2 linked regions of the Homo sapiens genome follow. The protein of the gene in region 2 interacts with the protein of the main gene of each other region in a pairwise test. Each region holds a gene or a part of one and is shown on either strand. Other genes may lie near its edges.

Region 1 (7,301 bases), on a different chromosome or scaffold from region 2:
TTTATGCAAATTACAAAAAGGCTTCTTATCTTTAAGAAAAGGGAAAAGTGGCCAGGAGCAGTGGCTCACGCCTGTAATCCCAACACTTTGGGAGGCTGAGGCAGGCGGATTGCCTGAGCTCAGGAGTTCATAAACAGCCTGGGCAACACGATGAAACTCCGTCTCTACTAAAATACAAAAAAAAATTAGTCGGACATGGCGGTGTGCACCTGTAGTCCCAGCTGCTCAGAAGTCTGAGACAGGAGAATTGCTTGAATCCTGAAGGTGGAGGTCGCAGTGAGCCGAGATCGCACCACTGCACTCCAGCCTGGGCGACACAGCGAGACTCCATCTCAAAGAAAAAAAAAAAAAAGAAGGGGGAAAAGCTTTTAAAGTAGTTATGATTGCACAGTCTGAGCAACTATGACCACTGGGCCTAAGTAAAGTGCAAATTCAGGTGGGTGACCCTTCCAACTGCATCTGGAGCCACAGTCATGGCCTGTGTGTTAATGGCAGGTGGGAGGGTAACACTGATCTGTGGCCTCTAGCTTAAAAGCAGCCTAAGTGTAGTTCCATATATGAAATTTCATTCTAAGTCTGTGGCCAAAGAGCTCAAATCCCATTAGAACCCAGGCTAAACCTCCAAGAGCAGTAGGAGGCCAGAGTCATGGCTTCAGGGTTCTCCCAGAGCAGAGTGGACCAGACATAGCCATGCACATGCGAAAACTTGTGTGCATTTGCACACTTGATTTCCTTTGCATGTGCATGGCCATGCAGGCAAATGTGGCTTGATGTGGGCCAGGACTCTCTCATTGTTCCCCAGGACTCCCTTAAGAGGCCTGGAATCTCCATGGCACATTAGCATGTGTCTACAACATGAATGACACCTACTAAGTGTGGCATCGTATGCAGGTCAGTCTCAACAGCTGCATGCAGTACTCCTCCTGGCTCTCTGTGACTCCTTGGCCATGGAAAGCCCACACTTACATATGCTAAAGCCTCCATTCTTCTCTCTGCAGGGATGACATGCCAAGCTCGAAGCTCCTACATCACCAGTGAGATCCTGTGGGGTTACCGGTTCACACCTGTCCTGACCCTGGAGGACGGGTTCTACGAAGTTGACTACAACAGCTTCCATGAGACCTATGAGACCAGCACCCCATCCCTTAGTGCCAAAGAGCTGGCCGAGTTAGCCAGCAGGGCAGAGCTGCCCCTGAGTTGGTCTGTATCCAGCAAACTCAACCAACATGCAGAACTGGAGACTGAAGAGGAAGAAAAGAACCTCGAAGAGCAAACAGAAAGAAATGGTGATGTGGCAAACCTGGAGAATGAATCCAAAGTTTAGTGCCCTAGCTGGGCAAACCCTTCTCTTCTCCCCCCAACACAATCTTTCCTTGTCTCTCATTCTCTTTCTTTTTCTGTCTCTCTTGCTTTGTTCTTTATTTGTTTATATTTAATTTTTACATGACCAGAAAACAAATCTTCAAGGTGTAAAATATCTACCTGCCCTCTCTCAGTTATTCAGATTGACAAGGTAGACATGGATTTGATGAAAGTGCAAAGTGCCCTCATTTGTGGCCCAAGCCTGGTCTCCTCCCAAAATACTACACATCCAACTCCTGGAGATTTCAGTTACTTACCTGCATGTGTTGTACAATACCAGATCACTCAAAAAGGTGTGTCAAAGATTTTACCTGGGATATGACAAGCAAGGTTTCTGGTGCCTATTTATTCATTCAGTGAGACACAGAGTGGAGCCCTCAGTTTTATGGATCCCAATTCATTTCATCTACTACAGGGTGAGGTGCTTGCCCCCATGTGGGTGTGGCAGTTACAGGGCCCAGGTGAGCTGAAGACAAACCACTGTACATATATATGCCTTATGTAATTATTTTCTTTTTGTAATTAGTAATAAAACCCAGCATGTACAAAAGTACCATAGAACAGAACTGCTAAATACTGTACATAGATGTATCATTAATGTAGGTTTAGATATATAACTTTAGAAATAAGAAGCAAAAAAAAAAAGAAAGAAAGAAAGATTCCTAACATGCAGTAGGCATTTCTGTTTTGATGTCTGTGTTTTCCAGGTTATTTTGATCCAGTTGACGGCTGGCCCTTCAGTGCATGGCCTTTGTTTGTGTCTCAGACTGGCAGACGTTAGGGTACCTCACTGTTCCCACACGGATCCTTTCATTGAATCCAACAAGCCATAGGTCTGGGGGAAATTGAGAGGTCTGGTAGATGGCAAAACCCACCACCAATATGCTGATATACTGTGAAATGTTACAAAACAGATGTCTTTTTTTAAAAGATAACAAGGGCCTCACTAACTGGCCTGGAGGAGGGGGAATACCAGGAAGGAAATATTCTCTAGCCTGTCACCAAAGGTATGTTTTTACTTTTCACATGAGCTCTTGCCCTTTGTAGTACAATAATTTAGGAAACTTTTCTGCAAAACCATTGATTCTCCAGCTGTAGTTTCTCTACACTCTTACAATGAGACATGGTAAGTTAGCAGAAGATGGTTTGGGTCTAAAGCCGTGAAATTCACAAAGGCATGTAGTGAGTGGCATGCATTATAATCATCGACCTCTCACTTTGACTCTATCTGGCTTTCTGAGAATGACATCTCGCCTGTCCCTGGGGCTTATCCATCAGCATTTCTTGCATTGTGATCTTTTATTATTTTGAAATGACCAGAGTTCAGTATTCAAAGATTAGATCAACAATCTTGATGATTGTCTAAGAAATGTCTCTAGAGTATGCCACAGGCTAGAAATCAAATCCAGTGTCTGTCAATCAAAAGAAAACAAATAAAAAAATTCCAGCCTTAATTCACTTTAATCTGCAAAAAGGAAAGAAGGGAGGAAGGGAGGGAGGAAGGAAGGAAGGAAGGAAGGGTATTTGTACTGGAAATCTGAATTTTAAAATGAAAAAAATAAGGAAACAAATCTTAGATCAAACCTCCGGGGCAGGTGGAGATTTTGCACTGTTACAGATCTTTCACATTCACTTTGCATTTATAAGCTGTTTGTTCTTTAACACAGTTGCCCATCATAAATATTCATTGAATGGATCCAAGTTTATTTTCAGCTCCTACAGCTGTGCTCAGTTTGAGGCTCTGCACCATGGAGGTCAAAGAGATCAAACTAGCTGTCCCTCTTTGTTTCCCTTGCCTTCCCTGACCTGATCGCACAGGCCTTTGGTGTAGTCTGGGGACCTTGTCTACTAAAAAAGAAGTCCCAGGATAAGGAAAGTGGCTCCTAAATATAACCTCGGGGCCTCTCTTCTCCCATCTCAGAGACCTTGGATCAGGACAACTGCCTCTTGGCACTGACTTTAAGGAAAACAAAACTGTTGGCTATAGCCCTTTCCTGTTTGCCAGCATTTCCTTTTTTGCATTGAATCTCTGTTGAATCATTTCTTTATTTCGCACACTCTAAGAAGGAGGTGGTGGTCCGGGAGGAGGAAGCTCGATACACTCCCCTTGAGGCTGCGGGGAGGAGCCATGGCTTGACCTCTCTGCAGCCTAATGAAGGGCACTCTTGGCTTGGGGAGCTCCCCTGCAACCTTGCCAGGGTCGCAGGGCAGGCCATGGCAGGCACAAAACAAGATGGAATAGGGGCGGCAAAATGTCTTCTAATTTAGCTCTTGAAGACTCACTGGGCCTTTTTAATTCCATTGCTAAGGTTTAAAGGACAGCGCACACCCCCGTGTCTGGTTGGAAGAGCAAGCAGCTCAGGGCCTCATCCCTGCTTGCCTGCCCTTTAGCACAACTGAACGAAGAGCCTTGACAACACGTTGGCCACGTGCACCTGTCAGTTCTGTGTCTGTGACGGGCACCCAGATGTGAGGTCTCTCCCTGTTTCTCACTGTCTTTGTTGTCAATGTAGTTGGAGACAGAACTTGAACCAAATCTCGTTTTTGTAATGTGAGCCTCTGAATCTTTACATGGGGATGCTCCTGAAGAACCTTTTACTAGAATGTCCCTATCAAACATGTCTATTTTTCTACAGTTGTTAACACAGTTTAACAGTGTATTTTGTGTCAACTGTTAAAATTTGGAACTGAAAGTTCATTGAGACTGATTTTCTAAGCAGCGAGTAGTGAGTGAATGGTGTTTTCCATTAAGACAGCTCAACAAAATTGACCCCACAATTTCCACTCATTCTATTCCGCAATATCCAGTCCTCATTCCCTCAGTCACTCCATTAGCAAACCAAGTGCAATGAGAATTTTTTAAAAGTCTCTTTTAATACAACAGTATCCATAACTAATGAAGATCACTCTCAACTAGATCCTTTGGTCTGTTTGGTTAATGTATTTGAGTCATTTTTCCATAAAGCATGGTGGGATCCGTGAGCCAGATAAGAATTTGGAATTTAAGGGTTATGGTTTGCCACAGTTGACCCCAATTTGACAGAACAAAGTGCTCCTGGATGGAAGGGCAGGTTCAGCTGCAAGCATGACCCCCCACCACAAGGCTGCTGAGTTCCTCGGATTCTCACCTCCACCCACCCCAACGTGCTCTCCAACTGGAAGAGCACCCATTCATTTATAAATCAACTTTATGGAACCAATAAAATCATTTCTGTTTTAGCTGTCCCCTGGGTAAGCTATACTCTTTTACATTAACATAGCAAATGTCAACTTTTCTGTTCCTTCAAACATGGCCTTCCAGCCTGGTTGTTCCAGCATATATCCCCTCTATGTCCATGAGGCAGAACTCTCTCTTCCCCCACTCCGTTCTTCCATCTATCCCCATCCTTTGCTGTTTCCCTGGTTCTCCAGTTCCAATTCTATTGTTTTAGTTCAGTACCTTATGTTCCCTAACAGAAATCCAGCTGCAAATGTCAACCTATTTCTTAAGCACAATTTTCTCTTGCAGGTCTAACCAAGCTAGGGCTCTGAAATGTCTATTTTTCACTGCACTCCAATTTAAAAATTATTCATGACTTCATTTAATAGTCTAAATTTTGAATTCTCCAGAGCAACATTCTTATGCTTTCCATCCCTACATTTTCTTACATTTCAGTTTTCTTACTTTTTTCCCCTTTGCTTTTTTATTTAGATTTAAGCCAGTGTCTTTGGGATATTTAGAAACTGCTTACAAAGGTGGGAACTGGTGGACAGAGAAAGGGGGCATAAGAATGCTATTAGAAAACTACCTGAACTCACCAGAAGAATGGGAAATCATTTGATTTGCTGAGAGAATACAATTAAAATACTCATAGTAAATCATTTCCAAAACAGTTTGCTAATAGTCTGGCTACTCTTCAGTCTTTCTTTCCTTGACTTGGGTGATACTCTGTATGATTTAAAAATGTCAGGAAGGTAGTTGAAAGTTCAGTGTCCTCTATATATTGTAAACATTATCTTCAAGGATGATTTCCTTTCAATGGATGGCTTTAACATTGAAAAACATAGGTAACATATACATAATAGATGATTCATTGATATTACTTTACAATACACTAAAATAACATTATCTTGTTTCTGAACTTTATGGCCAACCGGTATCTAAGAAAATGTTAGCCTTTAATTTAAAATTGAGTAAAGCACGCCTCTTCCTAATATTTCTGCCTTTAATGTCTTGAGTGCTTTAGATGCAGAGTGTCATCTAGAAGTCAAAATTCTGTCAGAAGGCTGCTAAGAGATTTTGATAAATCACAGAATATATAATAATAACCCAACAATATTTTACCCAACATGGTGTGGTGTTTGAGAGCATTAAGAGCACTTGTACAAATTATCTTATTTCATTCTAATTCACCATGAGAGGTTGAGTATTATAATTTACATTTTATAGAGGGAAAACTAGGGTTTGGGCAAATTGGCCAAGTTTAAAGGCCAGTGAATCATAGCTCCTTGTCTCAAATCCAGGTCACAGGGCCCTAAGCTGTGGGCTATTTTTACTACAAAAAATTTCAGCAAACCAAATCTGCTAAAAAAAAAAAAATCTGGCCTGCTGCCTGTTATTGTACCACTTGTGAGCTAAGAGCAATTTTTACATTTTTTAATAATTGGGGGAAAAAAAAGAAAAGAAGAATATTTTGAGACATGTGAAAATCATCCTAAATTCAAATTTCAATGTCCACAAACAAAGTTTTATTGGAACACAGCCACAGCCATTTGTCTGTGTATTGCCTATGGCTGCTTCCACATGCACTCACAGAGCTGAGTAATTACAACAGAGACCGTGTGGCCAGCAAAGATTGAAATATTTACTATCTGGCCCTGTATAAAAAAAGTTTGCTGACCCCTGTACTGTACTGTTAAGTACTATTGGTACTATTAAGTACTAGTAATAGTACTATTAATAATAGTATGTAAGAGTACTAAGTACTATGAAATATTGTACTGTACTCTTAAGAGAGTCCTAGGCAATATAGAAGAATGACTTTTTTTCTAGCATAAATTATTGAAGTCACTCATAAGTCTGTTCAAAATAACATAACTCTTTTTTTTCGGTTGTCAAAGAGACAACTGCTTCACAAGACTTAGAGAGCCCAGTCATTCAGTTAGGGTCTCAAAGGAAGAATCCTTCCTTTTCATGCCATTCCTCCAGAGTGGCAAATAGAGTCAACAGCCAGCCAGGATCTAGCGGTCAACTCAGAAAGTGGATACAGTAAAATTACTCCTTAATGAACTACAGAGAAATGGGCATTCCCAGCCCAGCCGCTGAAATATTGCTTCAGTGGCACCCTCAGGCGTTGGATGATGTACATAGCTCAGGCTGCCAGTCTCTGCTCAGCAAAGCAGCCCAGACCTGCAGTGGTTGCCACACATCAAACCCGCCTCGCTCCTCCACATGGCTTCTCTCTTAGGCTCTCTTGGAGGAGAGTTAAATAGGTGGCCCAGATGTCTCCCTCTGTTTTCTTGCTAGTTTTCTCTAGCCTACAGTTTACAACTGATCAAGGTGATGAACGTGAACCTGGAACTAGCTCATGTTTAATTGCGCTAGTTTTTGCTCTCTCTAGCCACTAAGCTAGAAGTTTAATGTGTAATTAAAGAACTAAATGCTTCTTATGGAAAACCAAAAGGTCCTTTGAAAAGAGCTCAGGGAGACACGGAAGTATAGTAAAGGGTTGTTGGATTTCTTGCGCTTTCTGAGTCTGAAGCAAAGACAAAGATTGGTAATTACAGACATAATGGATGGAAAAAGTCCAGACCTTGGGGTTTTTAGATGAGTCAATATTAAATGGCATTCTTTGTGTCACTAAGCTGAACTCCCTTGTCTTCTAAGGAAGCATTTCTAATGCCAGAGGTAGTCAGCCAAGCTAGGTTCCTTATCTTTTTAGTTCTATGGAAAAACATAT
Region 2 (2,962 bases):
GAGTTTGAGGCTGCAGTGAGGCTATGATCGCACCACTGCACTCCAGCCTGGGTGACAGAGATCCTGGGTCAAAAAGATAAAAATCAAGGCAGTGCAATTGATATCACATGAGGCCCAAGGGCGCACACACACTGGCTGTTGTGTGTTCCTGGGCCAGGCTGTGCAACAATGTCTGCCAGAGGCCACATGTGCACAGACTCTGAAGGGTTGTTCTCAGCCAGCAGACTAAGCAGTGCCCTCATCCCATCCCACCACACATTGGCTGAGGTGGGAGCCCCAAGTATCTTCAGCGATGCCAGTGTGTGTTGCCCAGTCTCAGCCTGGAGCCCTTAAAATGCTCACAGTGGCCCTGCGTCGGCAGCACAGTGGCATGAGGCCACGCCCTCGGGTGGCCTGATGAGAGGTGGCGCCTCTGGCCTGTGTGCCCAGGACTCTGGGGAGTAGAGAACAGCCCTCAATGGCTGGAGGCCACTTGGGGTCCGTGGGCAACGCTTGCTCAAAGATGGAGAGGACCCACCGGGCTGAGGGCATTCCTGAAGGTGGGCTGGGGTAGTGTGGTTTCCAACTTTGGGTCCGTCCTGTGGAGGGTAAGGGGCCAGGAGCCAGCAGTGTAATAACCTTCACCCCTGAGCCAGGCGCCAGCACCACAATGTTTAATTGATTCCCGTTCCAGCTTTCTCAAGGCACGACAGGCCCCCTCTTCCTCATCTTGATTTGGATACAAGACGCCAGCTGGCAGGCAGGAGGTGCTGCTGAAGCCCTGCACGGCCCCTGAAAACTGTCACGGCTCAGGAGCTCCAGGCTGAGGCCTGGGGGACCTCGCATCAGTCCCTCCACCCACCCTGCCCATGGGTTTCACCACAGGCAGCTCCATGAGAGCCCCGGCCCCTGCCCTGGCGGCTTCTGCTTTGCGGGAAGGGCCCTCCGTGGGCTCTGGCTGTGTCCCTGTGCTCTTCCGGCAGTGTCAGGGGGTAGTGGCCTCGGCCTGGCCGCCGGCCCGGGCCGCCTGGTACATGCTGAGGATTGAGGAGATGGTGCCCATGAGGCCCACTAGCCACGGCGGGAAGCGGCCGGCCCACAGCACGCCCCGGGGCAGCCAGTGCACGGCGTTGGCCAGGTCGGCCAGGTTGCTGAGAAGTGACAGCGCCTCCGACTGCATCTGCGCCTCCATGGCCCTCCGCTTGCCCCGGGGCAGCGGGCTGTGGGGCAGAGAGGGGCCGCTTACACTCACGCTCACACCTGCCTGCCCTTCCCAAGCCCCTGAATGCCCTGTGTGGCCTGGCAGCCCTGAGCCCCTGCCTGTGAGTGGGAGGAGCTGGCAGGACTGAGGTGGCCTCCCTGACCATCCACAGAGACTGAGTCCCCATCACCCCCCCGACCCAAGCACGAACAGGGCAGGAACCCGGGTCCAAGTCCTCAAATCCACACCTCACTCCTCGTCCTGAACACCCAGAGATGGGGATTCCTTGTGAAAAACAGAAAGCACAAATGCACTTTGGGAGGTGTGGAGGGAAGGGGGAACCCCCAGGAGCGTGGCCTGTGCCTGCCCGGCCTTTCTTTATCAGGATGACACAGTGACGATAAGCCTGGCCAATATGGCGAGACCCCATCTCCACCAAAAAATAAAAAACAAAATTAGCCAGGCGTGCTGGCCCGTGCCTGTAGTCCCAGCTACTCGGGAAGCTGAAACAGGAGGATCAGTTGAGCCCAGGAGGCAGAGGCTGCAGTGAGCCAAGATGGCACCACTGTGCTCCAGCCTGGGCAACAGAGCAAGACCCTGTCTCAAAAAACAAAAAGAAAAAGCAACAGTAACAATGGCCATGGCCTTCGGGAAATTGATCATTCTCTCCTGCTGGGGGCGCAGCCATGAAGGCTCAGCCCTGGAGTCCCCGCTCAAGCAAGCCTCAGTTTCTCCATCTGTAAAAGGTACCGCCACCCACCAGAGGCTGTGATGACTCCCCCATGACCTGAGCACAACAGTCCCCAGCATGGGCCTGCACAGGGGTGGCTGCGAGCCGGGATCCCACGCCTGCTGGAGGGAGTGGGCCTCCCTGCTGGGTGATCACGGGCTCCTACCTGGTGAAGGGCGCCGTGGGGCTCCGCAGCCTCTGTCTCAGTTTCAGCAGCATCCACAGGGACCTGCAGCACCAGAGCCCGAGGGAGGATGCCCCGGCGGGGAGCAGGAGGGTTAGCTCCACAACGCTGGCCCCGGACATACAGTCTGGGACAGGTGCTGCATCTCGGATAAACGGCCTGCCCTCTCCCTGCCCCCACAGTCCCACACCCTCCTGGCTGTGCCTCATGCTCCCGGGGACTCATCTCTAACACGGCCCCGTCCCACCCGGGACATCGTCCTGCACTTCTGACGTGGCCATCCAGGGCCTGGCCCAGCCTCTGCAAACCACTGGCAAGTGCTCAAAGGAACATCAAGCCCCGTGAGGTGTTCACAGCCTGGCAGGGAGTCCTACACAGAAAAGGATGCCAAGAGGCCCGCAGTTGGACAGGCGTGGGGACGCCGTTTCCCCTCCGGGCCTCAGCTGCCTTGTCTGCTCTGTGTGGAAAGGTCCAAATCAGTGCCATGCCAGCACCCCCTGCACACACACCCCGGACATTGGCTGGACCTGTCTGGATGATCCCCTGGGCCCCCAGGGCTGGCATCTGCAGGCTGAGGAAGGGGCTACCCAGTGGGCAGCCTCTGTGCTCCCAGCAGGCTCTGCAGCCGTGCATGGCACCCACCCGGGCCAGTCCACCAGGCACCTGCACTCTCCAGCCTCGGCCGTGGGGTGTGCCGGGTTGTGACTGTGACAGAATGGGCAGGGCCTGGTCACAACTCCTCTGGCCACTGGGTACCCAGGGTGCAGGATGCAGGATAGCGCCAGTGGCACAGCAGGTGGGAGCCTCCTGGGGGGCTAGGGAAAAACACTGATTCCTGGGCTCCCCAGACCCACAGAATCAGAAGCTC

The links.
Region 1: the proteins of PEX11G (region 2) and KCNJ6 interact in binary tests that used the Homo sapiens proteins (3 or more experiments, as listed by UniProt).

Annotation. Positions count from the first base shown.
Region 1 is NC_000021.9:37,619,182-37,626,482, reverse strand, and holds part of KCNJ6 (G protein-activated inward rectifier potassium channel 2), read left to right. Parts: intron 1-998; coding exon 999-1,324; 3' UTR 1,325-7,301. UniProt on the Homo sapiens protein: Inward rectifier potassium channels are characterized by a greater tendency to allow potassium to flow into the cell rather than out of it.
Region 2 is NC_000019.10:7,476,238-7,479,199, forward strand, and holds the end of PEX11G (peroxisomal membrane protein 11C), read right to left. Parts: exon of another isoform or gene 2,140-2,962; coding exon 2,077-2,139; exon of another isoform or gene 1,200-2,076; coding exon 965-1,199; 3' UTR 638-964; downstream 1-637. UniProt on the Homo sapiens protein: Promotes membrane protrusion and elongation on the peroxisomal surface.